Linked DNA regions of Homo sapiens. The protein of the gene in region 1 purifies or fractionates together with the protein of each later gene. This does not show direct contact. Each region holds a gene or a part of one and is shown in the gene's direction. Other genes may lie near its edges. The genes, in order: BCAT1, ATXN2, ARID3B, TRIP12, PRR14L, TRMT44 and EEFSEC.

Region 1 (4,694 bases):
TCCTCATCTGGTGTGAATTACCTTCTCTTTCTTTACTATTTACTACCAACCTAGTACATGTGTTGACTGAATTCTTTTCAAACAATGTTGAGTTATCATGGTGCACCTAATAAATTAACACCACAGATTACAGCATCCTTGCTGATTTTCTCAGCAAAGCCAGATTAGATGGAAATAAACAAAGAAAATGATCCTAGAGTGAATTTTTCTAGAAAATATCTATTATGAACCATGCTGTTTAAAGTATTAGCTTGAAGGTGATGGATCCAGCTATTCAGAAAATAACTTTCATATAACCATGATTTTGCACAGTATGAGGTCTTAAATGTGTGGAAAGAGATAAATTTTTTATCATTACCACAAACCCCTTTTAAAGATTCAAAGGTGGAAGAAAGTGATTTATTTTTTCTCTTCAGCATACATATATAAAAGACTTGTCAGATGTTTAATTTGGGGAGGTTGATAATGAAACATATCAACAGAGTATAGTAGTTATAGTAGTGTTTGTGGGTAAATAATTTCCTGGGGTCAGACATATATAAACATATTTGCTTCAAAATGATAAAGGCATGAAATCAGTCTTAAAAATTGAAATGGGGGTGATGGGGGAGAAAAAGAAGAACAAATTTGAAGTGCCCTTTCAAATCTGCTGGATACAAGTATTGAAGTTTTAAGTCATCTTATTCTGTCTGAAAGTGTATTTTTCATTCTACAATAGACCCAATCAACAAGACGTATAACTTGAGTTGCATGATGTTCAGTTTATGTAATCTACTGTTGGGATGGTAAGAATTGATGTAGGCTGTGGTGTAAGAATGAATTAAAATATAGTTTCACTGGCTTTTCTCTACATATCCACTATCACAATGGCTAGGTTTCCTGTTGCTCACTATTGGATTCTGGAGAAAAATTTAATGAAAGATGATATCAGAGGAAGAATAAGTGGAGGTAGAGAAGAAAGGAATGATAGAGGAGGGGAAAAAAACAAAACATATTTTTGTGTTATCCAAAGGAGCTTTTTCCTTATTCTGTCAAGCATTGAGATCTTCTTCAGCTTTCAATGTAGTTGCTAAATACAAATAATGCTACTAGGTAGTGACTAAATATAGCAAACACTTCATCAGATATTAGAATTAGGTCACACTATTGAGGTTATAATCTGAAGGTTGTGTTACATAGAAACCACTTTAGATTATTATCAACTTGGACTAGGCTTTATTTTATAATAGCATAGTAAGTAATATCTATTGTGTCATTTCTTCAACCATTTTATTCTAAGATCCATGAAGCTTCTTGAGGCCAAATAAAATAATAAGTTTAGACAAGAAGTAGATTGTGACTTTTTTCCCTTAGAGATACTATTTACTATCTCCTATCCTGATAGGTGGAAGGTTTACTGAATTGGAAATTGGTTGACTATTAGTTTTTAACTAAAATGTGCAATAACACATTGCAGTTTCCTCAAACTAGTTTCCTATGATCATTAAACTCATTCTCAGGGTTAAGAAAGGAATGTAAATTTCTGCCTCAATTTGTACTTCATCAATAAGTTTTTGAAGAGTGCAGATTTTTAGTCAGGTCTTAAAAATAAACTCACAAATCTGGATGCATTTCTAAATTCTGCAAATGTTTCCTGGGGTGACTTAACAAGGAATAATCCCACAATATACCTAGCTACCTAATACATGGAGCTGGGGCTCAACCCACTGTTTTTAAGGATTTGCGCTTACTTGTGGCTGAGGAAAAATAAGTAGTTCGAGGAAGTAGTTTTTAAATGTGAGCTTATAGATAGAAACAGAATATCAACTTAATTATGAAATTGTTAGAACCTGTTCTCTTGTATCTGAATCTGATTGCAATTACTATTGTACTGATAGACTCCAGCCATTGCAAGTCTCAGATATCTTAGCTGTGTAGTGATTCTTGAAATTCTTTTTAAGAAAAATTGAGTAGAAAGAAATAAACCCTTTGTAAATGAGGCTTGGCTTTTGTGAAAGATCATCCGCAGGCTATGTTAAAAGGATTTTAGCTCACTAAAAGTGTAATAATGGAAATGTGGAAAATATCGTAGGTAAAGGAAACTACCTCATGCTCTGAAGGTTTTGTAGAAGCACAATTAAACATCTAAAATGGCTTTGTTACACCAGAGCCATCTGGTGTGAAGAACTCTATATTTGTATGTTGAGAGGGCATGGAATAATTGTATTTTGCTGGCAATAGACACATTCTTTATTATTTGCAGATTCCTCATCAAATCTGTAATTATGCACAGTTTCTGTTATCAATAAAACAAAAGAATCCTGTTTGTGTGGTTTCATGAAATCAGCATTGTTGAATGCATGAAGTAATAATGCTAAATTAACATTTTTATGATGTCTCAAGGTTTCTGGTCAAGGGAAGTAAATGTAGGATAGTATTTTTACACCAAAATGACACAGAGAGAATTGAGCACACCAGAAAGACCAGAAACCACACCACTGGATAGAGATTCAATATGTTTCTTTTTCAAACATTTGGACAAGAAAAAAATGGGCATTTAAAAATTCTTCCTTCCCCTGGTTATGGATTTATCTGTAGTAAAACTTAGCTTTGTCGTTTGAGATTTGCACAGAATGGGGGGAGTAGATTACCTCTTCCCATTCATTGTCATAATGGATCTACATCACTGATAAACACCATACTTCTATATGTGGTTAACTAGCTTTAGAATAAAAGACACTTTAAAAAGTAAAAGGCCTAGAGATCTTCAATGAAGTGTCCCTTTTAGCCAAACCAGGCCTTGCAGAAATTGTCCTCAAAAGCACCAAGGGAGAACAAAGCCAAGTGCAGAATTACCCAAGGGTCACACATTTTGTATTCATTTTCTTATAATTTGCCCAAATGATTTGAAGTACAGCAAAACCTGAAGTTTTGCAAAGAGTTACTGTAAACTGAACTTAAAAATGTCAGAGTGCTCGGTGACCCACTTCTCCAGACCCTGTCAACCTGTGAAAATATTGGCCTTTATTCAGATCTCTCAAGAAGTTACGCGCAGAGTTTGGAAGGTCTAGGCAAAGGTTATTAGTCAAGTGTTCTTACAGTGTCAACGCTCAATTCCCACAAGCGTGAGAAAGAGAGACCTGTCATTCCTGAGGGTGATGACATACATTTACTGGAGCTTATATAATTTATCAGATAAGACAGCAGTTTCCTTCAGGGTAGAAAGTGTGTTTTCTACATTGATTTAGTACAAAACAAAAAGAAAAGGGGATATTTCAAATTTTATAATTATTTTTCTGCTAAGCTGATTCAGTGTGATTTAAGCATATTTTTCAAATCATGAATCTGATTCCATATACATATGTGCCTTATATTGTGATAATTTATTTTTAAGTGAAATATGCTATCATAGCCTGACTTTATGTATAGTGGTGACAACTTGCAGGATCGCATTTCTGTAACCAAACGGCCGACAGCTGAGGTGTAGATGCTTCCTATGGTCTGTAGAATAATCACTGGGCTTGTTCTCTAGCTATGTCTGTATGCAATCGCGACAGTGTTGATCAAAACCCATGATCATTCTCTCCAAAGGTCTTTGTCACTAAGCCACTAGGGATTCTGAAAAGTTCGTGAGCTGAAACAAATAAATTGAGTTGGAAGATTCATGTTGACTGTTTGTATCCCAAATGCAATATACCAGTTTTTGAAGCTGAACTGATTACATTAAAAAGGGATCAAGCTGCATTTGTTTTAAAGATAGTTACATGACCAAAAGTTGCTCAACATCATTGGTCATTAGATATGTGCAATCAAACCTGCAATGAGATATCACTTCACCCCAGTTAAAATGGCCTATATCCAAAATGCAGGTAATAACAAATGCTGGTAAGGGTGCAGAGAAAAGGGAACCCTCTTACACTGTTGTTGGGAATGTAAATTCATACAACCACTATGGAGAACAGTTTGGAGGTTCCTCAGAAAACTAAACATTGAGGTATGATATGATCCAGCAATCCCACTGCTAGGTATACATCCAAAAGAAAGGAACTCATTACATCAAAAAGATATCTGCAATTCTATTTTTGTTACAGCACTGTTTACAATAGCTATGATTTGGAAGCAACCTAAGTGTCCATCAATAGATGAATGGATGAAGAAAATGTGGTACATGTACACAATGGAGTACTATTCAGCCAGGAAAAAGAATGAGATCCTGTCATTTGCAACAACTTGAATGGAACTGGAGGTCATTATGCTAAGTGAAATAAGCCAGGCACAGAAAGACAAACTTTGCATGTTCTCACTTATTTGTGGGATCTAAAAGAACTATTGAACTCATGGAGATAGAGCGTAGAATGGTTACAAGAGGCTGGGAAGGGTAATGTTGGTGGGGAGGACAGAGGAAGTGGGAATGGTTAATGAGTACAAAAAAATAGAAAGAATGAATAAGACCTCCTATTTGATATCACAACAAAGTTACTATAGTCAATAATAACCTAATTGTACATTTTGAAATAACTTAGAGAATAATTGGATTATTTGTAACTCAAAGGATAAACACATGAGGGGATGCATACCCCATTCTCCACGAAGTGCTTATTTCACATTTCATGCCTGTGTCAAAACATCTCATGTACCCCATAAATATATACACCTACTATGTACCCACAGAAATTAAAAATATAAAAAAGATAGTTACATAATCTAGTAAACAC
Region 2 (4,616 bases), about 87 Mb from region 1:
TCGCCTTGCCCATCTCCTTCCTCTCGCCCACCTTCTCGCTACCAGTCAGGTCCCAACTCTCTTCCACCTCGGGCAGCCACCCCTACACGGCCGCCCTCCAGGCCCCCCTCGCGGCCATCCAGACCCCCGTCTCACCCCTCTGCTCATGGTTCTCCAGCTCCTGTCTCTACTATGCCTAAACGCATGTCTTCAGAAGGTACAATACCACAATTTGTTCATGTTTTTGTTTGTCTTTGTTTAACTCCTATGTGAGTTTATAATTACAAAATAGTTTCCTCTTCATTATTTAATAACCTATAATTTCTGTGTTTTAACTTTAGTTTATTAAAACTATTTCTATTAACCTTTTGTTCATTAGAGAGAAATTTGATAAATGTGTGAAGCTATAAACTCTCTTGAATTGTTGTTAAAAAGGGGGTTTATCTCTGCCTGATAATTATGCTTCTTTACAGCCCCAGAAGGGTCTGCCCCACAGCCTTCCCCCTCCTTATTTGCACTGTATACAGTAGTTAAACAAATGAACTTTCTTCAGCCAGTCTTGAACTTAGGTTCATTTTACAGCTCTTTGGCCAAGGTCCTAGTGAACCTTCCTATTGGCCATAAGCAGGGATGGTGTTTTCTGGGTCTTTTTTGAGAGCGACAGCCCATGTAGCTGACTTTGCGTGTCTGCCCTTAGATTAAAGTAGTTGATTTTTAGAATGCCAGAAGAATTCTAAATTTAACTGAGTAATTTTTTTAAAGTTAGCTTTGCAATCTTACATAGTGAAAGGCTGCTTTAATCTGGAAGAAGTCCTTGATCTGAGATAAAATTGATAAAAACGACATATGAATTTGAATATTTAGCTATTTCTTTCCTCGTCAAAAATAAGAATAAAATCTTGTAATTCTTATTCAGTATTTGGCGCTAAATCCATCATTGCCACATATCAAATACAGGGATATGTTGTAGAAAGGTAACATTCTAATTTAAATGCCACCCATATATTAAAAACCTGTTTTCTGAATCATAATGTCCTTTTGATACTAGTTCTGAATATTTGTGTTAAAATTTTAATCTGATTTGTTCATTAAAATTAGTTAATATTGCTTATGTTGGGACTAATAAAGTTTTCCGCACAAAATGTGTTTCTCCTGCTTCCCTGGAGAAAACTGTATTGGCTACTTTTAAATAAATTGTTACCATCTAAGCAGGCAGGTCATATGACTTTGACTGAAGCATCTAACCTTGAAGAGCAAGTTCCACTGATTTTCAAGGTGACTTCTTTGCTCAAAAGGGCCTTAATAGTGGTCACTAAATGCAAAATTCTGTTGATATTTTTCTTGTAGTCCATCATTTGAGTAAGCGATGTTTATTTAATGAGAATATATTAAATAAAACATGATCATTAATGACTGTGAACATCTTTATTACATTAAGATTTAAGGACTGCTCATGTATTAACTTCACACAGAAATATACTTTCTGTGTCATTCAGAGATGTTGAATATTTCCATTTGAAAATTATAGTGTATAACATTAGCATTCTTCTAAAGATCATGTTCGTGTTTAAATTCCTGTTGGAAGCCAGGCATGGTGGCTAACGCCTGTAATCTCAGCACTTTGGGAGGCTGAGGCAGGTGGATCACTTGAGGTCAGGAGTTTGAGACCAGCCTGGCCAACATGGTGAAACCTCGTCTCTACTAAAAATACCCAGCTACTTGGGAGGCTGAGGCAGGAGAATCACTTGAACCTGGGAGGCAGAGGTTGCAGTGAGTTGAGATCGTACCACTGCACTCCAGCCTGGGCGACAGAGACAGACTCTGTCTTATAAAAATAAAAATAAAATAATAATTCTATTGGCAACATATATTAATTTGAAGTTCTAAAGAGTTTGGCAGCCGGGTGAGAGAGTGAGGAGATTTGGCTTTGACATTAGGGAAGTTTTCGCTTGGTGTTAACACCAGTAGGCTTCTCTGATGAGGGCCATTCTGTCCACTCTTTTACCTGATAGATTGGTCTAATGCACAGTAGACTGATTTAGAAAGAGTAGTCACTAGTGGCATGGCAGAATCAATAATGTAGAATTTTGACAATTCATATAGTGCTGATTTCTCCCCCAAATGTCAGTTATTTTGGTCATCTATTAATAGACTAATACAAGTCATCCCTTTAATAGAATTTTCAGCTCACAGCCTGCTAAGCCTAAGAAACTGCTTACAGGTTACTGCTTACTGTTTTAAGCCGAGTTTTAAAATTGATGATCATGATAGAAGAGATAAATAAACTAAAATTTTAGAGAAATTTAAGAAGGGTATGTACATATGTTTTAGTGGTATCGGGGTGTATAGGGATTAATAGTCTTCTGTTTAAATTTTTTTTTTCTAATTTTAGAAGTAATGTAGAAAATTCGGGTCAGGGAAAGGTAAAATATATGGAAAGTTAAAAATATTTTATCATGTAGTCATAATTTCTAGTAACATATTTCTTTACAAATAAGACATAGTTGAAACAGATTGCTACAGTTCTTTTAAGAGTTGACATCTTATTGTTGATTTCTTACCACCAACTTCATCCCTCCCTTTCTTTAAAAATAAAGGGAAATAATAAAATTTATTTATAAAACTTTGTGGCATTCCACAAAATAATTCTGAAAGAATTAGTATGGCCAAAAAAATATGTATGGTGTTTTTTTTTTTTCTATTTTTAACCAAGGAAAAACTGTAGAGTGAGTGAGTGTGTGTGCATGTGTGTGTGAATGGGTGTATTTAGCAGAAAAGTAGTACTGATGAATATCATGGAATTTATGTGATGTTCACTGTTTCTTCCTTAGGGCCTCCAAGGATGTCCCCAAAGGCCCAGCGACATCCTCGAAATCACAGAGTTTCTGCTGGGAGGGGTTCCATATCCAGTGGCCTAGAATTTGTATCCCACAACCCACCCAGTGAAGCAGCTACTCCTCCAGTAGCAAGGACCAGTCCCTCGGGGGGAACGTGGTCATCAGTGGTCAGTGGGGGTAGGTAACACTTGGGCATAATGATGGTACTCATTTTGTCATTACACTAGATATAAAGAGGGCTGAGCTACAACTCTGTTTGAGGAAGTGTAAGTATGTATATGTTAAAAATAGTAGAATCACCAGGAATTGGGAAACCCATATTTTTATTCTGGGCTCTACCACTTATTCATCATATATTAAAGCAAGTCAGACACTCATTCTGAAGTTGAGATTTCGCAGTGAGTAAAGTGTTAATAATTCTTGCCTAGTCTACATTATGGGATTGTGATGAGATTCCTATAAGGTTCATAAATACAGATATATTGTAAAACTATAAAGTTTTGTAAAGTACCTCTCTAATATGAGGCAAACACAGTATGTAACACTATTTGGAGGGACCGTATTTCCTTATCTTTTTAGCAGCTTTGTTTATCAGTACATTCTATAAACATTTATTTTTGGCTTACATTGTAGTGTGTTTCTATAGCATCTGTATATGGCACTAATTCCCAACTATATTTCCATAATAAGGAATATCAAATACAAATAAAGGGTCCAAGTTTTATTTGTGATTAGCATAAGGAATATGCTGACAGCAGCTATAAAAGTATAAAAATTAGGCTGGGTGTGGTGGCTCACGCCTGTAATCCCAGCACTTTGGGAGGCTGAGGTGGGCGGATCACAAGGTCAGGAGATCGAGACCATCCTGGCTAACACGGTGAAACCCCGTCCCTACTAAAAGTACAAAAAAAATTAGCCGGGCATGGTGGCGGGTGCCTGTAGTCCCAGCTACTTGGGAGGCTGAGGCAGGAGAATGGCATGAACTCGGGAAGCGGAGCTTGCAGTTAGCTGAGATCACGCCATTGCACTCCAGCATGGGCAACAGAGCAAGACTCTGTCTCAAAAAAAAAAAAAAAAAAAAAGTTTAAAAACTAGACGTTGACATGATTTTACAATAAGGCTGACTGCTTTTGCTACTTTGCCAATCAGTCCTTAGTGCTTTGTTCCCATAACTGTGGTAAGCAAGAGCTTACAAAGAATACTTAAAACAAACAAACAAACAAACAAAAAAAACACTTTTTCTCTTTTAATCAGTCCAGAGAACCTTTAAAAGAAACAAGATCGGCCAGTTGCTGTGGCTCATGCCTGTAATCCCAGCACTTTGGGAGGCTGAGGTGGGTGGATCACTTGAGGTCAGGAGTTCAAGACTGGCCTGACCAACATGATGAAACCCCATCTCTACTAAAAATACAAAATTAGCTGAGTGTGGTGGCTATTTGAGAGGCTGAGGCAGGAGAATCATTTGAACCCAGGAGGTGAAGGTTGCAGTGAGCCAAGATCACACCATTGCACTCCAGTCTGGGTGACAAGAGCGAAACTCTATCTCAAAAAAAAGAAAAAAGAAACAAGATCTTCAAGCTTAAGGAAACAAAAACAAAACTCAGCTGTGTTAAATCTGTTTTTAGTTGCTATACATTTCTGCTCAGCTTCATGTGATGCACATTCATGTAATTGTATCCTAAATTCCTTTGTACTTTTTATTTTCTTCCTTGGTCTTCAATTATCTTAAGACTACCAAGAAAACAAAAATTTTAAAAATCTTCTTCAGCCGGTCAGGCGCAGTGGCTCACGGCTGTAATC
Region 3 (3,822 bases), on another chromosome or scaffold:
CAAAGGCCGTGTGTGCCAGCACTTGCAGGCTTCCACAAACGCCAGCTGCCTGGGTGGTCATGGAGGGGAGGGGCTGAGGGCGTAGACTCCTCTCTCTGAGGGACTCAGAGTCAAAGGAAAGAAAGGGCAGGTGGGTCCTCAAAGTTGGGGCTGGGTCTCATTGATCTCTGATTTCCTGGGCCTGGTGTATAGTGTAGTTCAGGGTTTGCCCGTCACTTGGAAAGTGCCAGTGCAGAGTGGTGGGGCCGGAGCCGGCCTCCTTGCCTACTGTGATTCCTTTTCTCTGGGAGCAGAGGTAGTTGAGGGGATGAACTGGGTCAGTGGAAAAAGCCAGCAACAGGAGATTGGCGAGCCTGGGATCTCCTGCCATACCCTACACTCAGGAGAAGGTTACATAGATGCCTTTTAACAGCGTGAGGCTTTGACCAGGGGTGGCCAGGCAGCATCAGAGAGGACAACAGGAGTGCTGTGGAAGGCTTGACCAGGCCCACTGTCTCCCTGTCCCCAGCAGAAGACAGAGCAGAGGCCTCGGCTGCAGCACTGAACCTGACCACGAGTAGCATTGGGAGCATTAACATGTCTGTGGACATCGATGGCACCACCTATGCAGGTGAGGCCCTGGAGCTCTGGGGGAGGCCCACGTGGCCGCAGCTAGCCACAGGGCAGCTCTGCGGCTGGCCCTGCCTCTTACCCTCTGTCTGAACACCTCCCACAGTGGCTTCCTTTTTCCTGGTCTCAGAGTTGCAAAGGTCAAGTGGTCCTCTGGACTAGTAGACTGTGGATTGTTAACAGGATGATAGGTCCCTCCCACTTTGGCAGAAACCCTTCACCTAACCCTTTTAGACCAGTGGTTGGCTCGTTAATTGAAGAAGTCAGTCAGTGTCCCACAATCCCCAGGTCTTCTCATGCACAGCCTTTCTCTGACTGTAATTCAGCTCTTCTCTTCCTTTTGCAGACTGAGACACAGGCAAAGGAACCCCAGTATAGGAGAATCAGCTTACATTGTTAAGCTCCCTGCCCCCCAGTCTTTTACAGTTATCTTTTCCTAAACCTAATTTGGCAACAGTGTTTTGTTGGTTGGTTGATTTCGCACCTTTACAGAGTCTTTCTAAGGGTTTAACTTAGTATTCATGACTGGGCACGGTGGCTGATGCCTGTAATCCTTGCACTTTGGGAGGCTGAGGCAAGAGGACCACTTGAGCCCAGGAGTTTGAGACCAGCCTGAGCAACATAGCAAAATCCCAAATCTACAAAATACAAAAAAAAATAGCCAGGCATGGTGGTGCACACCTGTGGTCCCAGCTACTTGGGAGGCTGAGGCCAGGAGGATCACTTGAGCCCAGGAGGTCGAGGCTGCAGTAAGCCGTGATTGTACCACTGCATTCCAGCCTGAGTGACAAAGCAAGACCTTGTCTCAATTAAAAAAAAAAAAAACAAAACTTAATATTCATAAAAACAGCAGTCCTTTTCCCATTCCCATTTCATTGGTTTACGGACGAGCTTGGGAACAAGCCCACCTGACTCTTGTTAAGCACAGCATTGCTGGGCGCGGTGGCTCACGCCTGTAATCCCAGCATTTTGGGAGGCCAAGGCGGGTGGATCACGAAGTCAGGATATCGAGACCATCCTGGCTAACACAGTGAAACCCCGTCTCTACTAAAAATACAAAAAGTTAGCCAGGCGTGGGGGCGGGTGCCTGTAGTCCCAGCTACTCGGGAGGCTGAGGCAGGAGAATGGCGTGAACCTGGGAGGCAGAGCTTGCAGTGAGCTGAGATCGCGCCACTGCACTCCAGCCTGGGCGACAGAGTGAGACTCCGTCTCAAAAAAAAAAAGCACAGTATTATGAGTGGGGGCCACCAGGCCTGGCCCAGGGCATCACCCACCTGTTTTACCAAGGGCCCAAGGGCATGCGGAGTGTCAGCCAGCCTGGCAAGGTGTCTCGTGGAGACAGGCGAAAGCCCTACAACTGCACCTTCTATCACAACTGGGAGTGTTTCCTCAGGGCCTACTCCCATTCTAAGGGCCACACTCCCTCAGAGCACCGCCCTGCAGGCCTCCTGGGAGCATGCTCTGGATCTCTGCTGGGCCACTCACTTCAGAGAGAGGACAGAGTGTAGAGGAGCAGTGGTGCCAAGTGGGCTCACCAGTCATGCTATGTCTGCAGACTCTGCTCAGAGGTCTCTACCTGTCACAGGAGGCCCCTGGAGGAGGTGGGGCCTGGTGCCCTTTGCCTCTTCATTGTGCTGTGGTTTGGGAGGGTTGGGGGTTGGAATTAGGTCCATGGAGAAAGCAGGGAAGTAGGAATTCAAGGCCTGGATCTTGATATCCTTTTGTCCTCTGTCAAGGAGAAAGGAGAAGGTAACTCCTTCCCTCTCAGAATGAGGAAGGGTCAGAAGTTGAAGGCTCCTCAAACCCCTGACAAGAAGGGAGCCAGTCACCCACCCCACCTGGCTCTGTCACCCAGGCTGGAGTGCATTGGTGCGGTCATAGCTCACTGCAGCTTCAACCTCCTGGGCTCAAGTGATCCTCCTGCCTCAGCCCCCTGAGTAGCTGGGACTACCCATGCCCAGCTAATTTTAAAAAAAATTTTTATAGAGACAAGGCTCTTGCTGTATTGCCCAGTCTGGTCTCAAACTCCTGGCCTTGAGCTATTCTCCTGCCTCACCCTCCCAAAGTGCTGGGATTATAGTTGTGAGCCACCACACCTGGCCTTGGTGTTCCTCTTTGTGTACCCTGGGTACACCTTGTCTCAGAGCATTTATGACATTTTAGCAAAATTACTCTGTCGACCTATCTGTCCCCCTCCCCAGCCCATCAGCACTTCAAGGCAGGACAGCATTTGGATCTTCTCCCATCACCCCCTAGCACAGTGTCTACAGCGGAGTCAGGCACAGGCTAGGCCAGCGGTGAATACTTACTGAAAGGAGCTGGCCCTCCCCTTCGCTCTTCCTCTGCCCACACTTGCTTCTCTTCCACCCACCAAGGTGTGCTGTTTGCCCAGAAGCCTGTGGTCCACCTCATCACGGGGTCTGCTCCCCAGAGCCTCGGCAGCAGCGCCAGCAGCAGCAGCAGCTCTCACTGTTCACCAAGTCCTACCTCATCCCGGGGCACCCCCAGCGCAGAGCCCTCCACCAGCTGGTCCCTCTGATGGGCAGGACCCAGCTTCCCACTTGCCACTCTCCTGTCGAGAGTGAAGGAAGTTGATGCACAGAATTTACCTCATCTCACAGAGCCCACGTCGACGAGCACCATTTGGCCAGACATTGAGAGTTTGGACGTGTCCGTCTGTCCAGGCTCCATTCAGGTCCTGCTGTACTCTGGGGGCAGGGAGAGGCTAGAGGGGCAGGACAGACAGCGTTGTCCAATCAGGGATTGTCCTGGAGAACTGGGTGGGGGTCTGTGGGTGTCCAGCTTCCTCCAGGGTTCCCCAGCCACCTCCCAGCTCAGGGCACAGTGTATCGACAATCTGTCAGCCGACGCAGGGCTGGAGGCCCTCCATTTCCCTCCCCTTTTAATTTATTTCCCTGACCCTGCCTTCTGCCATGACCCCAGGGCCACTAGTCTCTTCCCCTGTTTTTAAGTCCCATGTGGGGCTGCCAGGAGCCAAGAGCATGCCTTCATGCCCTTCTCTGCAGAGCATGGGATGGGGCCCTTCCAGCCCACTTTGCCTACTGTTAGGTTCCTGGGGTACGGGTCCCTCAAACACAAGTCTTGAATCAGTCCTCAGGGCCCCAGATCCCCCTTCTAATAGTCTGAAGGAAGAGGCTGTGAGGGCAGTTCAGGGCCAGGGCCCACAGGGCATCTGCTGATGGGAAGGCAGAG
Region 4 (4,616 bases), on another chromosome or scaffold:
GAAAAAAAGGCAAGAGGCCTGTATATGAGGCCTGTGTGTGTCGCATTTACACCCCGGGGGGGTTGAGGAATGGAATTAGCAGAGGTTTAGAGACAATAAATTGTAGAGGATTTTATTGAGGCTGATTTTCATATTTACCACATGCAAAGTGATCAATATTAAGTGTAAGTTTTAAAGTATACAGAATTTCTAATTCTTTCTTTTGACACTTCCTGCTGTGTGTTCAGCCCCAGAAATGTTGAACTGCTGTGACTATCTTTGTGAGATTGAGGGAGTTTTATTTTAAGCTTAAGAGTACATAATATGATTGGGGTTTGTGGGCTTTGTACATGTCTGCCTTTCTATGAATGTGCCAATATCCATAAGAATTGGAAAACTGTAATTAAGATTATCATTGTTTCCATTCAATCCCCAGTTTTTCTGGAGTGTGAGCAGTTTTTAAGTCTGTTCAGCTGACATTTATACTACTTAGTTTGAGTCTATGAACAGGCTTTATTTTTCTTTTTTTTTTTCATTTACTTTCAAAAAGTTTGAGAACAATTTTGGCAGTTAGGTTCCAGAAGGTGCTAAACTAAAGTAGTTACATTTAAAAAACGAATGGGATGCTAGGTAGATCACGGTAAAATCAGTACTTTCACCTGGCAAAGTAAATTTGTAGTAATGTATGATTCCATGTATGATTCCTTTCCCATTGTAACTTTTTTTTTTTTTAAAGCAGAATCTTGCTCTGTCGCCTAGGCTGGAGTGCAGTGGTGCAGTGTAGGCTTAATGCAACCTCTGCCTCCTGGTTCAAGCGATTCTCCTGCCTCAGCCTCCTGAGTAGCTGAGATTACAGGCACGCGCCACCACGCCCGGCTAATTTTTGCATTTTTAGTAGAGACAGAGTTTCACCATGTTGGCCAGGCTGGTCTCGAACTCCCGACCTCTCAGGTGATCCGCCTGCCTTGGTCACCCAAAGTGCTGGGATTGCAGGGGAGAGCCACCACGCCGGCCCCAGTGTAACTTGTAAGATTATTGTATTTATGTTATCTAGACAAGGTTTTAATATCCTGCTTTATTTTAAGGTTTTCATCTTAGCAAGGAAAACATCACTGGCTTGGAAATTCACACACTACCAGTTAGTAGCTTTGTGACCTTGAGCTAGTCACTTAACCTATCTGGTCTTCATTTATTTTATCTGTAAAATGGGAGTGGGTAATCTCTATTTTACCTCACTGGGTGGTTGTGAGACCCAACAGATGTAATGACTGAAAAAAAACAACATGCTAAATAAATTAATTTTAGAAAATTACATGAGCTGTTTTGAGGTCATTTTTAAAAGATACAGCTTCTCATTAGTCGTGGTGGTCCATGGGGCAGGGGAGAATTAATGTAAACTAGGTTGAAGGTACAGAGTTATAGAACTTCATAATTTGAAATTGCTGCTTAATTGGTAGTAGAATTTGGGTCTCATTTTTGTCTTTTTAAAGTTACCTTCTTTTTTTGGTATCAGCATGCCAGATACTTGTTTGCCATACATTCTACTGAAAAAACTTGTTAATATGTTTAAAGAAACTTCAAATTCATTTACGTTTTTTATTGACAAAGTACCTGTTCTGGTTTGTGACTCTAATGAAATTGACTTAATGTAAGAGATTACAATTAGGGAATAATGCTTCTGAATCTTGGTCACTGTTTTCTTTACAGAACCTAGGGAACTTTCCCCCCTTTTAAGTGGATGGGTAGGGATCTTTTTGAGCAAATGTGATACCAGTTGCTCCTTTATTTTTTTGTTTGCTATTTGATGGACTCAAGTCAAAACAGCAACCTACTTGGTTTTTTAATCTTCACTGAAATCATTCCTTGCAATTGCCTGTTTGACATGGACTTTTCCCTCATTTAAATCAAGCAAGCACCCACTATGTACAGAAAAACATAGAAGATAAAGGATGTGAAGAACAACTTACAACTCATGTCTTCAGATCACTTCCTCGAACAAGTTTCTACCTGTGATCTTTGTATTTCTGATTAACTGTACTTGCTTCGTTTCTGCATTACAGTATTGCATTTGTTGACATGTGTTGCTTTTGTTTCCCTGATTGGACTGTAGGCTTCCTGAGGGCAAGGATGATTTCATGTCAATGTGGTATGTGTGAAGGTATACTAATAAACCTGATTGGTCTGGGTGAGGTGGCACTGGAGGTGAGGACGTGGGAGGATCGCTTGAGGCTAGGAGTTGTAGCCCAGGCAACATAGTGAGACTGTCTCCACAAAAAAGAAAAAAAAAGTTAGCTGGGCATGGTGGCATGCATCAGTAGTTCTAGGCAACTTTGGAGGCTGAAGCGGAAGTATTGCTTGAACCCAGAGATTTGAAGTTAATAGTTATGATCATGCCACTGGACTCCAACCTGCTTGGAAGGGTTCTTTGACCCCAGCAGATTCTTCAGAATGCTTTCTCTTGGTTGGTTCAGTGATCAGGGCCTCTTCACATCTCCCCTGACTAACGTGCCATTAGAGTGCCTGGATGGATATCAACTGTCACTGCCATGTTTTAGTGTTAAGCCAGTGGATTATTCTGTGCCACTTTTTTCATAGGCCAAGCTTTAGTTAATAAGGCCAAGCCTGAGGAGAGTCCAGGCCAGATAGGGTGGAAGAGTAAAAATCTGGTGGATGTTACAGAATAAATATAATTTTTAGATTGTTGTATATAATCTTAGTGCTTGGTAATTTTTTTTTTTTTTTTTTTTTTTTTTTTTTTTTTTTTTTGAGACAGAGTCTCGCTCTGTTGCCCAGGGTGGAGTGCAATGGCGCGATCTTGGCTCACTGCAGGCTCCGCCTCCAGGGTTCATGCCATTCTCTTGCCTCAGCCTCCCGAGTAGCTGGGACTACAGGTGCCAGCCACCACGCCCAGCTAATTTTTTTGTATTTTTAGTAGAGATGGGGTTTCACCTTGTTAGCCAGGATGGTCTTGATTTCCTGACCTCGTGATCCACCCGCCTTGGACTCCCAAAGTGCTGGGATTACAGGCGTGAGCCACCGCGCCCGGCCAGTGCTTGGTAATTCTTAACGTGTAGTGTAATGTAAGCTTTACTTGTGTATTTTCTTTTGGTACTTGTGTATCATTTCAGCAGCTGTGTTACAGACTTGAAGACATAACCTCAAAGCAGTTGTTCTCTACCTCTCTGCTGGGTTTCTCTGTGCATAATGGATGCTTGCTGTTATTTGTAATAAATAGATAAGTATACCGATGCTAGACCTGTCCCTTGATTTTTCTTTTTTTTTTTTTAAGTAAAATTTAACTCTGCTAATGTCTTGGGTTTTTTAAAAATGTAGTTCTTTAATATCCTAACTTACTGATAGTTTTAGGTTATTGGCAAAAAGAGGTTTCCTAGACTGAAATAAGTCTGTTCAGTCATTTTTCTCTGAGGCCTTTTAGATTTTGGTTGTTTATTGTGATTTCAGTGATTTCATTAAACTGAATTGGATAGAAGAAAAAGGAACTTACCCATTATTCAGGCTTACCTGCTTTGTCTTGAGAGTGCAGAAGCTATTGGCAGTAGTCAGTTTCATGGTTATGCTTGTTCGTTTGTTGAGACAGAGTCTCACTTTTGTCACCCAGGCTGGAGTGCAGTGGCGCGATCTCGGCTCACTGCAACCTCCACCTTCCAGGTTCAAGTGATTCTCCTGCCTCAGCCTCCCAAATACTGGGATCACAGACGGGCACCTCCACACTTGGCTATCATGGTTATGCTTGATTTAAAAAGTCATTCAAATGGTCTAGAGTGAAAAATACCTGCTACTGTGTGTTTTCCTTAATAGCACTGTTCAAGTGATTATCTGATTTGAAGGCAAGACTTAGGTTCCAATCCTGGCTATGCATTTCCCATCTTTGTAACCTTGGGCAAATAATTTAACTTAGTACTTTGTGAGCTTCAAGTGCCTAATCTGAAAAATTTGATTATTACCACCTAATGTAGAGTCAGTTGTCATTTATATGCTAGACATTCTGTATTTAGATTAGGCTCCACAGATGAATTGGAACACAAGGCCCTTTCTCCACTTGTTTACAGTACTGTGGACCATTGCCTCATTTGTTAAAACTCTTTTAACTCGAACATACCTCTGTTATATGCATAGGTATCCTACTTGAAACATTTGACCCAGTGGCTCATGCCTGTAATTCCAGAACTTTGGGAGGCTGAGGCAGGAGGATCACTTGAGCCCAGGAGTTTGAGACTAGCCTGAGCAACTTAGTAGAGACCTTGTTGCTACTAAAAGTAAAAAATTAGCTGGGCATGGTGGCACATGCCTGTAGTCTTCAGCTACCTGGGAGGCTGAGGTGAGAGGATTGCTTGAGCCTGGGAGATGGAAGCTGTGCTGAGCTGTAATTGTGCCACTGCACTCCAGCCTGGGTGACCGTGAGACCCTGTCTCAAAAAATTTTTTTTTTTTTTTAGTATACAATAGTATTCCTTAGTTGATTATGAATTCTTTAAAGTCTTTAGCCCTCACCCTTTTTTTAACTTTTATAAGGACACTAATCCCAAGTAGTGTCCCTTTTTATCTCTGCATCTAGCACAGTAGCTGGCCCATGATAGGGATTAAGCGTTTGTTGACAGAATAAGTCTTGTGAAAATA
Region 5 (4,616 bases), on another chromosome or scaffold:
AATAGAAAAGTTATTCTTTGGAGTCTTAGGATATTTATGGGTGACAAGACCCTTTGAGCTTATTTTGATGAACATGTGAAAAACAAGCCCGGGAAAGTTCACTTAACTTTCACTTAACACACTCAAGACTCTGCATCTAGTATGTGAGAGCAGGATAAGGGACCCTGGCTTCCTGATGAAGAGACCAGCAGTTAAGACTGCTGGGAGAGGCCAGGCGCGGTGGCTCATGCCTCTAATCCCAGCACTTTGGGAGGCCGAGGCGGGTGGATCACCTGAGGTCGGGAGTTTGAGACCAGCCTGACCAACATGGAGAAACTCCATCTTTACTAAAAATACAAAACAAATTAGGTGGGCATGGTGGCACATGCCTGTAATCCCAGCTACTAGGAAGGCTGAGGCAGGAGAATCGCTTGAACCTGGGAGGCAGAGGTTGCGGTGAGCCGAGATCATGCTGTTGCACTCCAGCCTGGGAAACAAGAGTGAAACTCTGTCTCAAAAAAAAAAGACTCCTGGGAGAGGGTCAGGCGCGGTGGCTCACACCTGTAATCCCAGCACTTTGGGAGGCCGAGGCGGGCGGATCACAAGGTCAGGAGATCAAGACCATCCTGGCTAACTCAGTGAAACCCCGTCTCTACTAAAAATAAAAAAAATAAAAAAATTAGCCAGGCGTGGTGGCGGGCACCTGTAGTCCCAGCTACTTGGGAGGCTGAGGCAGGAGAATGGCATGAACCCGGGAGGCAGAGCTTGCAGTGAGCCAAGATCGCGCCACTGCGCTCCAGCCTGAGCAACAGAGTGAGACTCCGTCTCAAAAAAAAAAAAAAAAAAAGACTGCTGGGAGAAGTATTTGTGCGTTTGCAAAGAAAGAACATGAAATAATTGTCCTCAACGTAAAAGAATTTCTACTTTTACTGGAATAATAATTTTCATACTTCCTGTAAGTATTAGTCAGTTTTTGGGAATAAATCCATTCCCTACACATTCTAATATAGTACTTATTTGTGTTGTGATAAAGACGACAAGCCAGTAGCAGCTGTCAAAAGTCGTTCATAAATCTATGGTTTATTTTTTGCTTATACCTCAAACTAGGTAATTATCTGGTATCCTCACCCAATAGGTTGATTATAAGTCATTAGCAAAGATTAAGCTGTAAATCCCTGTCTACATTTTATAAGCATGTGTTACTCACTCTTCCCTTTTACTTCACATTTAACACTTTAATGTAAAAGCATTGGTGGTTAAGGCAGAGAGCTGACAGCTGGAAAAATACTGATAAAACATACTGATAAAAAATACTGAAAATACACTTATCAGCTGTTTTTATTGCTGTGTGTTTAGATCTTGAGAAATAATGGTTAGACAACATTTTAACATATGTAATATATACTCACTGTTTTGAAAAATAAGTACAAGGCTGGGTGCAGCAGCTCACTCTGGGAGGCCGAGGTGGGAGGATCACTTGAGGCCAGGAGCTCAAGACCAGCCTGTGCAATGTAGTGAGACCTTGTCTCTACAAGAAATAAAAATATTTGCTGGGTTCACTGCCTCGCGCCTGTAGTCCTGGCTGCTTAGGAGGCTGAGGCAGGAGGATTGCTTGAGTCCAGAGTTTGAAGTTATAGAGAGCTGTGATCAAGCCACTGCATTCCAGCCTGGGCCACAGAGACCCTATCTCCAAAAAAAAAAGTTCAACATACAGATAAGTCATTGGTGATCCTATTGTCCAAGGTAACACTGTGATACTTGGCTTATATATATATATATATTTTTTTTTTTTTTTTTTTAAACTGAGTCTCCCTCTCACCCAGGCTGAAGTGCAATGGCGCGATCTCTGCTCGCTGCAACCTCTGCCTCCCAGGTTCAAGCGATTCTCGTGCCTTAGCCTCCCAAGTAGCTGAGATTACAGGCTCCTGCCACCACGCCCAGCTAATTTTTGCATTTTTTAGTAGAGATAGGGTTTCACCATGTTGGCCAGGCTGGTCTTGAACTCCTGACCTCAAGTGATCTACCCGCCTCAGCCTCCCAAAGTGCTGGTATTACAGGCATGAGCCACCACGCCCGGCTGTAGAGATGTATTTCTACATCATCCTTTTAGATTGCTCCATTGCATTCAGGAATTTAAAGAACTTGAATGTCTTCTCAAAATCGGGTTCTGTCACTGCAGTCTTGTGGCATTACCAATATTTTGATAGATGGTGTGAGCTACTGAGCTGAAAATAAGTTTATTTTTATTTTTTATTTTTTATTTTTTGAGACGGAGTCTCGCTCTGTCGCCCAGGCTGGAGTGCAGTGGCACAATCTCCGCTCACTGCAAACTCTGCCTCCCAGGTTCATGCCATTCTCCTGCCTCAGCCTCCCGAGTAGCTGGGACTACAGGCGCCCCTCACCACACCCGGCTAATTTTTTGTATTTTTAGTAGAGACAGGGTTTCACTGTGTTAGCCAGGATGGTCTCGATCTCCTGACCTCGTGATCCGCCTGCCTTGTCCTCCCAAAGTGCTGGGATTACAGGCGTGAGCCAAAGCACCCGGCCATGTTTAACCTGCCACTCTAGGCTTGCATTTAATATCACCTCACCTCTTAGGGTTCCAGCTGTTCTTGGTAACGTATCTGCAATTCTGTTCAGAAATTTGAGGACCCAGAATTAGTCCAGGAGAAAAAGGAGGGGGTGTCTGTTTTGGTTCTCTAGCCAATGTGCCTAGTTGTTTTACAGGTTGAAATTCTTAGAATTTGGTCCAAACAAGAGTATCAAGAGGTGAACCATTTTATGTGATTATCAGTATTCACTGTTTATGATAAAGATCTGTTTAGTAAACCTGTATTTGTGTATGACCGTATGTGGAGCAACATTTGGAACAAATGTTGAGCTAGAACTGTGGGGATGGAAATGAATATGATTTACTAGAAACACTGCAGGGAGTTGAGTCCACAGGCTGCAAGTGCTGATTGAATGGTGAGGGGAAGTCAGATATGGTTATGGCTGGGGATTCAAATCTAAGCTCTAGAATATTGATGGTGCCTTTTCTGAGAAGCAACAGGATTAAGAATCAGCATGTGGCTAGTCACAGTGGCTCACGCTTGTAATTCCAGCACTTTTGGGAGGCTGAGGTGGGAGGATTGCTTGAACCCAGGAGTTTGAGACCAGCCTGGGCAACATAACAAGACATACAAAATTATCTACAAAAATAAAAAAGTAGGCCGGGCATAGTGGCTCACGCCTGTAATCCCAGCACTTTGGGAGACCAAGGCGGACTGATCACCTGAGGTTGGGAGTTTGAGATCAGCCTGACCAACATAGAGAAACCCCATCTCTATTAAAAAATACAAAATTAGCTGGGTGTGGTGGCAAATGCCTGTAATCCCAGCTACTCAGGAGGCTGGGGCGGGAGAATCTCTTGAACCTGGGAGGTGGAGATTGTGGTGAGCTAAGATCGCACTGTTGCACTCCAGCCTGGGCAACAAGAGCGAAACTCCATCCCAAAAAAAAAAAAAAAATTAACCAGGCATGCTGAGGCAGAAGGAGTTCAAGGTTATAGTGAGCTATGATCGCACCACCACACTCCAGCCTGGGCGACACAGCAAGACCCTGTCTTTTTTTTTTTTTTTTTAATGAATGAGCATGTAAGTTTGCTGAGGGCGTCTTATTTATACCTGTTTCTCAAAGCTGTTTGCGTGTAGAAAGACTCAAAGACTCAGTTATTCAATAGATTGAATGAATTCTGTTTTAAACTTGGTAAGTTTTGGGGGTGCCATTCTTGCAAGTGAAATGTAGGTTAGGAATTGAAAGAAAGGTTGGGGTCAAGGTCAGGTTCTTTTTTTTTTTTTTCGAGGCAGGGTCTCACTGTGTCACCCAGTCTGGAGTGCAGTGGCCCCATCTCAGGTCACTGCAGCCTCCGCCTTCCAGGTTCAAGCGATTCTCCTGCCTCAGCCTCCCAAGTAGCTGGGATTACAGGCGTTCGCCAACATGCCCAGCTAATTTTTTGGATTTTTAGTAGAGACAGGGTTTCACCATGTTGGCCATTCTGGTCTGGAACTCCTGACCTCAAGTGATCCACCCACCTTGGCCTCCCAAAGTGCTGAGATTACAGGCTTGAGCCACCGCTCCCGGCCAGGTTCTTTTTTAAAAGAAATCATTTTTTTAAGATTTAATTCATATGCCATACAATTGACTGATTTAAATTGTACCAGTCAGTGGTTTTTGGTATAGTCACAGAGTTCTACAGCCATCACCATAATTGACTTTAGAACATTTTTATTACTCAAGAAAGAAACTCTGTGTCCCTCAGCTGTCACTCCCAATTTCTCCAAGAATCCCAGCCTTTTTTTTGGACAGACTTTCGGTTTTGTCTCCCAGTCTGGAGTGCAGTGGCGCAATCTCGGCTCACTGCACCCTCTGCCTCCCAGGTTCAAGTGATTCTCCTGCCTCAGCCTCCAGAGCAGCTGGGACTACAGGCGCGTGCCACCATGCCCAGCTGATTTTTTGTATTTTTAGTAGAGACGGGGTGTCACCGTGTTACCCAGGATGGTCTCGAACTCCTGACCTCATGATCCTCCCACCTTGGCCTCCCATGGGCGTGATCCTCCCCTCTTAGTAGCTGGGTTCATAGTAAGATTTGCCTAGTC
Region 6 (3,500 bases), on another chromosome or scaffold:
ATTTGTCATTTCCATGTTTTTTTTTTTTTTTTTTTTTTTGAGACAGGCTCTCACTCTGTCGCCTAGGCTGGGGTGCAGTGGTGCAATCTTGGCTCACTGGAGACTCAACCTCCCGGGCTCAAGCGATTCTCCCTAGTAGCTGGGACCACAGGCAGATGCTACCATGCCTGGCTAATTTTTTGTATTTTTTGTAGAGACAAAGTTTTGCCATGTTTCCCAGGGCTCAAGTGTTCTGCCTGCTTTGGCCTCCTAAAGTGCTTGGATTACAGGCTTGAGCCACTGCCCGGCTTCCATGTATTTTTTTAATCAGTCACGTCTTGCTCTGTAACAAAAGCACCCCAAAGGTCACAGGCTTAAAGCTGTGACCTTTCATTATTGCTGAAGCACCTGTGGGTCCCCGGGGTTGGCTGACTGAGGCTGGGCTCCCTCCCACATCCTGGCCTCGTGGTCCTTTGCCATCTTGTTAGCTATTTGGTACCGTCCAGAAGGTACTTTTTATGTTTTTCCAGCTTTTGAAATTGTTTCTAGTGGGATGGTTCATCTGTATTGTCTAAGGCGCTGTGACTGGAAATAGAAATTTCAACTTTTAACATTGGCCATTGGTTTTTCCTGTTTTGCCTAATGCCAGTTCTGAACATGACTAATTTTAATAATGAGAGCTCATGTTTGCACAGCTAGTGCTTTACAGTTTTCAGAGCACCTTGATTATCCTGTGTGTTAGTTGAGGCATGGCTTTATCCCTGTTTGACAGGTAGGGCGACAGCAGCCACTGATGGACCAGGGGCTGGAGCACTGGTCTCCTAGTTTGTGGCTCGCGGCTCTCCCTGCCCTAGTTTCACTCCCACGCCTAGTTTCCTTGTTTGTTGCCCTTATCTGCATAGACAATGAGCACAGTGTAGCTAAGTGTTTCCTCTGTGTCCACTGCCTCAGCTAAATGCCTTAGGTACATTCTGTTGATTGTGAAATCTTGCTTTGGATTGGATTGTTCTTGGCATGCCTTGTTTCTTTATGTAAATCTTTTATTGTAAGAAACCAGTTGTGAATTCCTGCCTTTGAGCTTATGTTTCCTATTTTAGTGTACGATTAGTCCAGTTTGATTTATGCTTTATAGGGATACTTAAAGTATTGGGAAATGGTGGTGGGGAAACCGAACAATTTATGTTTGCTCTTGAAACTGTTTTAGGTGTGGCCTGAAGTCACTGATCCTGAGAAGTTCGTGTATGAAGATGTGGCTATCGCAGCATACCTGCTGGTAAGGGTGTAAGCGACCTCAGCTTCTCTGGAGTGGGTGGAGTTTGCTACAGGCAGATGTTCCCTGTAGTGAAGGACATTTTCCAAATCCATAACTGCCGGTGCTCACAATTCTGCTGGCCAAGGTTGGTTTCTCGTGTAATGGTTTGACTTCATGTGGTCCTTTTGATGCGTATACAACAAGTTTGGGTTGAAACTTGACCTCGGGTTCCAACTTGACCTGCAGGCGGAACTGTACGTCCACACTCAGCAGTCATCGTGGAGGCACCGGCTGGCACAGGGAAGCACTGAGGAACACGTGTCTTCCGGCCCTGGCCTAGAACCTTCTAGCCCTTTCCTCAGCTGGCTCGCTAGCTGGCTACATTTGGACATGCCCTCTGATTTAATCATCTTGGTTTACTTATCTATAAGAATGTTTAGAGTAGGCTGGGTTTGGTGGCTCAAGCCTGTAATTCCCAGCACTTCGGGAGGCCGAGGCGGGCAGATCACTTGAGGTCAGGAGTTTGAGACCAGCCTGGCCAACATGGTGAAACCCTGTCTCTACTAAAAATACAAAATTAGCCAGGCGTGGTGGCAGGAGCCCATAGTTCCAGCTACTGGGGAGGCTGAGGCAGGAGAATTGCTTGAACCCAGGAGGCGGAGGTTGCAGTGACCAGAGATTGCATCATTGCACTCTAGCCTGGGCGGCAAGAGCAACACTCCATCTCAAAAAAAGAAAAAAAAAAAAGAATGTTTAGTGTAGATGATTTCAAGTTTCCTTTCACTCAGAGTTTTCTTTGACCAGTTTGTGTCTAAATTATTCTTGCGTAGAGTGAATTACCACCTGACTTTGTTTTGTTTTTCTCTTCACTTAGATTCTATGGGAAGAAGAAAGGGCTGAGAGGAGACTAACTGCCAGGCAGTCCTTTGTGGACCTGGGATGTGGAAATGGCCTCCTGGTCCACATCCTGAGCAGTGAGGGGGTAAGGCCCGGCTCCATCACCTTTTCTGGTAACTTGTCCAGAGTTTCCTCAAGTCAGGCACAGGGTTCACTGACATCTTTTTCTGCTGATACAGCCTGGATTTGGAGTCAGCCAGCTATCAGAGTAGGTAGAGACTTATAAATTTCTGTTAATCTGATAAACAAACAGCTCCTAAAACAAGGGAAACGTGGTGATCTCATTGGACCTAAGAGGAAGTCCCCGGGCCCCGGCATGGACCTATAAAATGACAGGCTTTGGGTAGCATGGATGTTTTTTTGCTGTCAGATTTTTCTTTTGAAACCCACCATCTCAAGGAGCTGGAGGGAGATAAAAAGCAAGGCAGGTTCTGCACTTGAGAAGCTTCAGGCCAGGCACGGGGCTCACGCCTGCAATCCTAACACTTGGGTGGCCGAGGCGGGTGGATCACTTGAGCCCGGGAGTTTGAGACCAGCCTGGGCAACATAGTGAAACCCCATCTCTGCAAAAAAAAGAAAAACAAATAAGAGAAGCTTCAGTTCTGGCTCGGACGGCCAGTCATGTATACACAGACAACAGTATGGAACAGTGTGGTGTGTGGTACTGGGTTTTGCCCTTATTTTCTGGATGTTCAGCTGATGCAGTGAAAGCACTCTTGGGCTGAGAGCGGCACCTGCCCAGGTAGCACGGTCAGTAGGGGTGGGTGTCTTGTGCCTGGAACTTCCTGCCAGCAACTTATACCCCTCCTGGTGCGTCCAGCGCGTCAGGTGCCATTACCCCATGATATGATGGCCAGCTTAGCCACTTCCTGCTAGGGGGCAACAGCTGGAACCTGCAGCCCAATATTGATGGTTCCAAACTGATTATCTTCCTGCTATGCTGTACTGTACAGTACTGTACTGATAGGCTGCGCATATTTGTCTACACCTGTAAGAGCTTGAAATGGTTGTTACAATGCCCTTTTTCAAGTGTGTTATTAAAGAATGAGTTTCTAATCATAATACCTATAAGCTGGTTGTGGGGGTGGTAGTGTATCAGGTGGCAGCTTGGTAGCTGGTACCTGGAGACAGCTGGGAGGTGTCTCGTGCACCCCTCCTCTTCTGCAGGCTTGGCAGAAATAAGTTTGCCCTATGAGAGCCAATGAGTGTGGCCAAGGTGCAAGAAGAGCCAGCAGCTGACCTTGACTGAGAGCAGAGAATTGGCTCACGTTCTCAGGTGTGCTCCCTGGGGCACTGGCCCTGGAAATGTTCCCACACTAAAGGCCACTGTGGTCACTCAACTCCATGTCCCATCTTGAACTCCATGTCCCAT
Region 7 (4,616 bases), on another chromosome or scaffold:
TGGCAGAAGCTTGGAATGCAGTCAGGGAGTTAGGTGGTTTTGATCTCCTGTCCACCTTGCCAGGGCATGGACCTCTGAGCTGAGTTCACCTTGGCAGCCTTGATGAACTGCTGGTCAGCCACATTCTCTGCCTTCCTCTGCCCTGCCCCATCTGGCTCCTCTCCCCACGGACTGTGGCACCAGTTTCTCTTTTCTAGCTCCTGACGTCCCAGATTTCCATCCCAACGAGAGATCCCTCGGGACCGTTCCTCATGTCTGTGGACCACTGTTTCTCCATCAAAGGCCAAGGCACTGTGATGACAGGGACCATCCTTTCAGGCTCCATCAGCCTCGGTGACAGTGTGGAGATCCCTGCCCTCAAGGTCAGTCTTACCTTGTCTTCCCTTCTGGCCTCCTCGCTGGCAGCAAGGGAGGGGGACTGTCCCTTTGTCTGTTCAGCTGCTGAGCCTGCTGCTGTGCCTGCCCTGGGACTCCCACTGCCTGCTCCGCCCCACCTCCCCTCTGGCTGCCTGGCCCCGCCCGGCTCCAAGTCTTTCAACTCAGATTCTAGGACTGCTGCTCTCCCTAATTCTCATAGCGCCTGTTTATTGGAGGCCTATGATGTGCCTCAAGGAGGTGTTCCCAAGTAGGTCTTCTGTGTAGATAAAGAAACTGAGGCTCCAGAAGGTGAGGTGGGCTTGAGATCACATGGTTAACAAGTGGGGCTGCTGGAGGGGAAACCTCCCTTTCTGGACGCTGTACGTCAGGGTGGCAAGTATGTGTGGAGTTATTTCTGGGTACCTTTTTCTTAACCACAGTAATTTCAAATTAAACATGACGTGAATCTTATGATGCTCAGAATCACAGAATCTGGAAGAAATCCAGGTTGGTTTTGCACTCCTGGTGGCCATCGACAGATGCCGCATTATTCTTCTGAAGACCTGTGAGAAGGATGAGTGGTTGGTGCCTTCCCATCACCCCTCCTTCTACTATGATGGCCTGGCTCTGATTTAAAAGATAGTGCCTTGATATTCCCCTTATTTAGAAGGCATTTTTAATAGTTTTACTTTATGCGACAAGAGAAACTTACAGCCTCATTGACTGCCCTCCCCTTCAACAAGAATAAAAGGTAGGGAACACATGCTACTTAGAATTCATGTGAGACCTTGCCTGGAATGCTGGGGTCCAGGGCAGTTCTCTAATCCTTGAAGGAGCCTACAGTGCAGGGAAGTGGAGGTGCTCAGCCCTGTGGACTCAGCTAGCTGCTAGAGAGGCTTGGATGTGCATGATTTCAATTTGCATGTTAATTGGGAATGGCTACCTGGAGGCTGTATTGAGGCATTTTAAGGTTGTCTGGCTCACTAGGTGTGTTGGTTAAGGTTCTCCGGAGAAACAGAACCAATGGGAGATACAGATATCTAGGTATCTATAGATACATAGGTAAAGATACATAGATGTAAATATGTAGATATCTGTATCTCCTATTAGTTTTGTTTTGCTGGAGAACACCAACTAATGCACCTAGTATTAGATGCAGATAGATAAATAGATACGTTTTTTAAGGAATTTGCTTATACTATTATAAAACCTGGCAAGTCCAAAATCTACAGGGTAGGCTGGCAGGATTGAGGCCTAGGGAGGAGCTGCAGCTTGAAGGCCATTTGCTGGCAGAATCCCCTCTTCTCTGAGGAGGTTAATCCTTTTGTTCTTAAGGCCTTCAACTGATTGGATGAAGCCCACCTACATTATAGGGGTCATCTGCTTTACTCAACATCCACCAATTTAAATGTTAATCTCATCTGAAAACACCTTCACAGAAACACTCAGAATAAAGTTGGAGCACTGTGGCCCAGCTAAGTTGACACATAAAATGAACCACATCACCCGCTGGGTGAGAGGGCCATGATAGCAGCACCTGGCCTGAGTGAGGGAAGTGGAGAGGGTCCCTACTGGCACCCATGTCTTGCGTGTGCCATCCCTCATCTAGAGCAGCATGGTTGGATATAGGGAAGGGGCATTTCATGGAGGGCAGGCATGAACAGGGTTCCCCCAAATGAAGGCAACCTGAGGTTTCAACCCCCCAGCTCATTTTACAGCAGTGTGTCTATTACTTCCTTCTGCAGGGGCCAGGGGTATTAGGGAAGAGTCTCCTGACCAGAAAGGACAAAACAAAAGAAAGGACTTGGCTCTGGCCAGGTTCCAGAGCTCCTTGGATCTAGTGGGAGGAGTCGAATGGCAGGGCCCCACCATATCCAAGGAGCCCTGGAACCTGGCCAGAGCTGGGTGTTAGGATGTCCCCCAGACACTGTGAGTCACAGTCCCCTCCTTTACCTGCTGTCATGTCCTCCTCTGAAGACCATTGGTCCCAGAAAAAGACCACTTGAATAAAATCTAGTTTAAGCCAGGGACTAAAAGTGCAAATCTTCAAAAATAAAGCACAAAAGTGTAAAAGTAGATTCAGTTTATATTTAACAAAATTAAGATTACTTTGGTGACTGTTTGCAGATTCTTTGCTAGAACAGAAAATGAATCAGTACTAAATTTCTTTCCAGTCTCTGTGCTTCCTAAGTCAGACCTCTGGGGGCCACTCTGACCTGGCATCCCTTCCACTCTGGGAGAAGACATGCTTGCAGCTTGGGAGAGGACCTGGGAGTATGAAAGAGGTGTCAAAAGAGGGCTCTCTGGGGGGTGGGGTAGACTTTGAATTGGGGGTACCTGAGGTTCTAGAGGGAGAAAAAGGTTTTTGATAAGAGTCAGTGGCTGCAATGTTAGGGCTGAGGGCATGGAGAAGGGCTGAGGCAGAGAAGTCAGTAGTGGTAAGGAGGCAGGGATGTTCGAGTGGGGTCCTGTTCTGAGCTTTTTGGCCACCCTCTTTGTCCTTATAAAGGTGGAACTTGCCTATCAGGATGCCAGTTACTGATCTTTAGTACTTGGGCACATGGCAGGTGCTTGGCAGATACAAATTTAATTCTCCTTTTACTTTTGTGCACCTGTTTTTCCCCAGCCTACTTTTTAACACTTTTGGTGTCTACTGCCTGATGATCTAATTTACTAGTCAGGAAAAGCAGAACTTGTAAGCAATGTACTGAGACATTTGGTTAAGGAGATTTCTAAGCAAACTGTGAAAGATGCTGCCTTGTTTCTCCATTGATGCTTATAGTAAAACATGAGGGAAAAGGAATGAATTGAGGAAGGAACTGTTAGCAAACAGAAATCAGCGCTTGATGATTTCGGAGGTTCTCAGTCCCTCTAGATTGCAAAGGATGTTAAGATTAGGAAATTCACTGCTGAGAAAGCATACCTTGGAGAGAAGGCCAAAGGTGAGCCTGGACAACCTTCTGTTGAAGAGAGGAGGTGTGTGACTCACAGATCCAAGCAACTTAGCAGCAACCAGAAATAGAGATGGACTTCTATAGCAAAGTTATGCGGAGAGCCGTCTTGGCTAATGGCATGGACCCCTTGATGTATATAAGAGACCCTCAAGGGTTTTGAGAATGTTATACCAGCAAGAACACTGGACTGAAAGGGAGAGAGACTTGACAAATGAATAAAAAGCTGTCAGACTTCTGGGATTCTACAGACAAGAAACAGGCTGATAGAACAACTCAGCTACAAACACATGTTATCCTTCAAAAACTAAAAAAGGAAGAATGACTCTGAGAGCAGGGCTCTGGAAACAGAAGTGAGGCTAGGGGAGTAGCCACAGAGGTCAGTCTCAGGTATTGAAACCTCATGGAATTTGCCCTGCTGTGTTTTAAACTTGCTTGGGACCAATGAACCTTGTATTTTTTCCACCGTCTCCCTTTTGGAATGTTAGAAGTAGGTAAATTGTTTTCTAGGTCCACAGATGGAGAGGCATTTTGCCCCAGGATAGACCATATCTAGAGTCTCACCCCTACCTGATTAGGTGACTTACATGATGACATTAGGAACTTTTTGAGCTGATGATAATTTAGATGAGATTTTGGACTTAGAGTTAATGGCCTAATGGACTGAGAGTTTGGGGGATGTTTGAAGAGGTGAATGTATTTTGCATGTGGGATGGATGTAAATTTTGGGTACCAGAGGGTAGACTATAGTAGGTTAAATTATGGTCCCCCAAAATATGTCTACCAGAACCTCAGAATATGACCATTTTGGAATAAGGGTCTTGCAGATGTAATTAAGGTAAGGATCTTAAGAAGAAATCATCCTGGATTAGGGTGGGCCTTAGGTCCAATGACCAGTGTCCTTATAAGAGACAGACAAGGAGAAGACACGGAGAGTCACAGAGAGAAGTCCATATAAAGACTAAGGCAGAGATTGGAGCTCTGTTGTTCCAAGCCAAGGGGTGCCCATGGTTGCCGGAAGCCCCCAGAAGCCAGGAGAGAGGCATGGAGATGAGTCTGCCTCGGTGCCTCCATGGGAACCATCCCTGCTGACACGTCGATTTGGACTTCTGGCTCCAGAACTGTGAGAGAAGAAATATTTTGTTGTTTTAAGATATCAAATTTGTGGTAATTTGTTATGGCAGCCCTAAGAAACTTATGAATTTTGCATGGAAAGGACTGAAATCAGAAAAAGCCTTAAGTTCTTTCTGATCCTGTCAGGTCCCTTAACTCTGAGCTTTGGCTTCCTCGCAGGGAGTCGCTGCCCCT

The links.
Region 2: the proteins of BCAT1 (region 1) and ATXN2 purify together in Homo sapiens (affinity purification with mass spectrometry; 2 studies listed by BioGRID and IntAct, with this or other methods). This does not show direct contact.
Region 3: the proteins of BCAT1 (region 1) and ARID3B purify together in Homo sapiens (affinity purification with mass spectrometry; 2 studies listed by BioGRID and IntAct, with this or other methods). This does not show direct contact.
Region 4: the proteins of BCAT1 (region 1) and TRIP12 purify together in Homo sapiens (affinity purification with mass spectrometry; 3 studies listed by BioGRID and IntAct, with this or other methods). This does not show direct contact.
Region 5: the proteins of BCAT1 (region 1) and PRR14L purify together in Homo sapiens (affinity purification with mass spectrometry; 2 studies listed by BioGRID and IntAct, with this or other methods). This does not show direct contact.
Region 6: the proteins of BCAT1 (region 1) and TRMT44 purify together in Homo sapiens (affinity purification with mass spectrometry; 2 studies listed by BioGRID and IntAct, with this or other methods). This does not show direct contact.
Region 7: the proteins of BCAT1 (region 1) and EEFSEC fractionate together in Homo sapiens (co-fractionation; one large-scale study listed by BioGRID). This does not show direct contact.

Annotation. Positions count from the first base shown.
Region 1 is NC_000012.12:24,808,972-24,813,665, reverse strand, and holds the end of BCAT1 (branched-chain-amino-acid aminotransferase, cytosolic), read left to right. Parts: 3' UTR 1-3,642; downstream 3,643-4,694.
Region 2 is NC_000012.12:111,511,734-111,516,349, reverse strand, and holds part of ATXN2 (ataxin-2), read left to right. Parts: coding exon 1-196; intron 197-2,810; coding exon 2,811-2,993; intron 2,994-4,616. UniProt on the Homo sapiens protein: Involved in EGFR trafficking, acting as negative regulator of endocytic EGFR internalization at the plasma membrane.
Region 3 is NC_000015.10:74,592,627-74,596,448, forward strand, and holds part of ARID3B (AT-rich interactive domain-containing protein 3B), read left to right. Parts: intron 1-508; coding exon of another isoform or gene 509-511; coding exon 512-610; intron 611-2,984; coding exon 2,985-3,148; 3' UTR 3,149-3,822. UniProt on the Homo sapiens protein: Transcription factor which may be involved in neuroblastoma growth and malignant transformation. Favors nuclear targeting of ARID3A.
Region 4 is NC_000002.12:229,915,510-229,920,125, reverse strand, and holds part of TRIP12 (E3 ubiquitin-protein ligase TRIP12), read left to right. Parts: intron 1-4,616. UniProt on the Homo sapiens protein: E3 ubiquitin-protein ligase involved in ubiquitin fusion degradation (UFD) pathway and regulation of DNA repair.
Region 5 is NC_000022.11:31,743,006-31,747,621, reverse strand, and holds part of PRR14L (protein PRR14L), read left to right. Parts: intron 1-4,616.
Region 6 is NC_000004.12:8,450,777-8,454,276, forward strand, and holds part of TRMT44 (probable tRNA (uracil-O(2)-)-methyltransferase), read left to right. Parts: intron 1-1,183; coding exon 1,184-1,252; intron 1,253-2,105; coding exon 2,106-2,213; intron 2,214-3,500. UniProt on the Homo sapiens protein: Probable adenosyl-L-methionine (AdoMet)-dependent tRNA (uracil-O(2)-)-methyltransferase.
Region 7 is NC_000003.12:128,264,420-128,269,035, forward strand, and holds part of EEFSEC (selenocysteine-specific elongation factor), read left to right. Parts: intron 1-197; coding exon 198-362; intron 363-4,616. UniProt on the Homo sapiens protein: Translation factor required for the incorporation of the rare amino acid selenocysteine encoded by UGA codons. Replaces the eRF1-eRF3-GTP ternary complex for the insertion of selenocysteine directed by the UGA codon.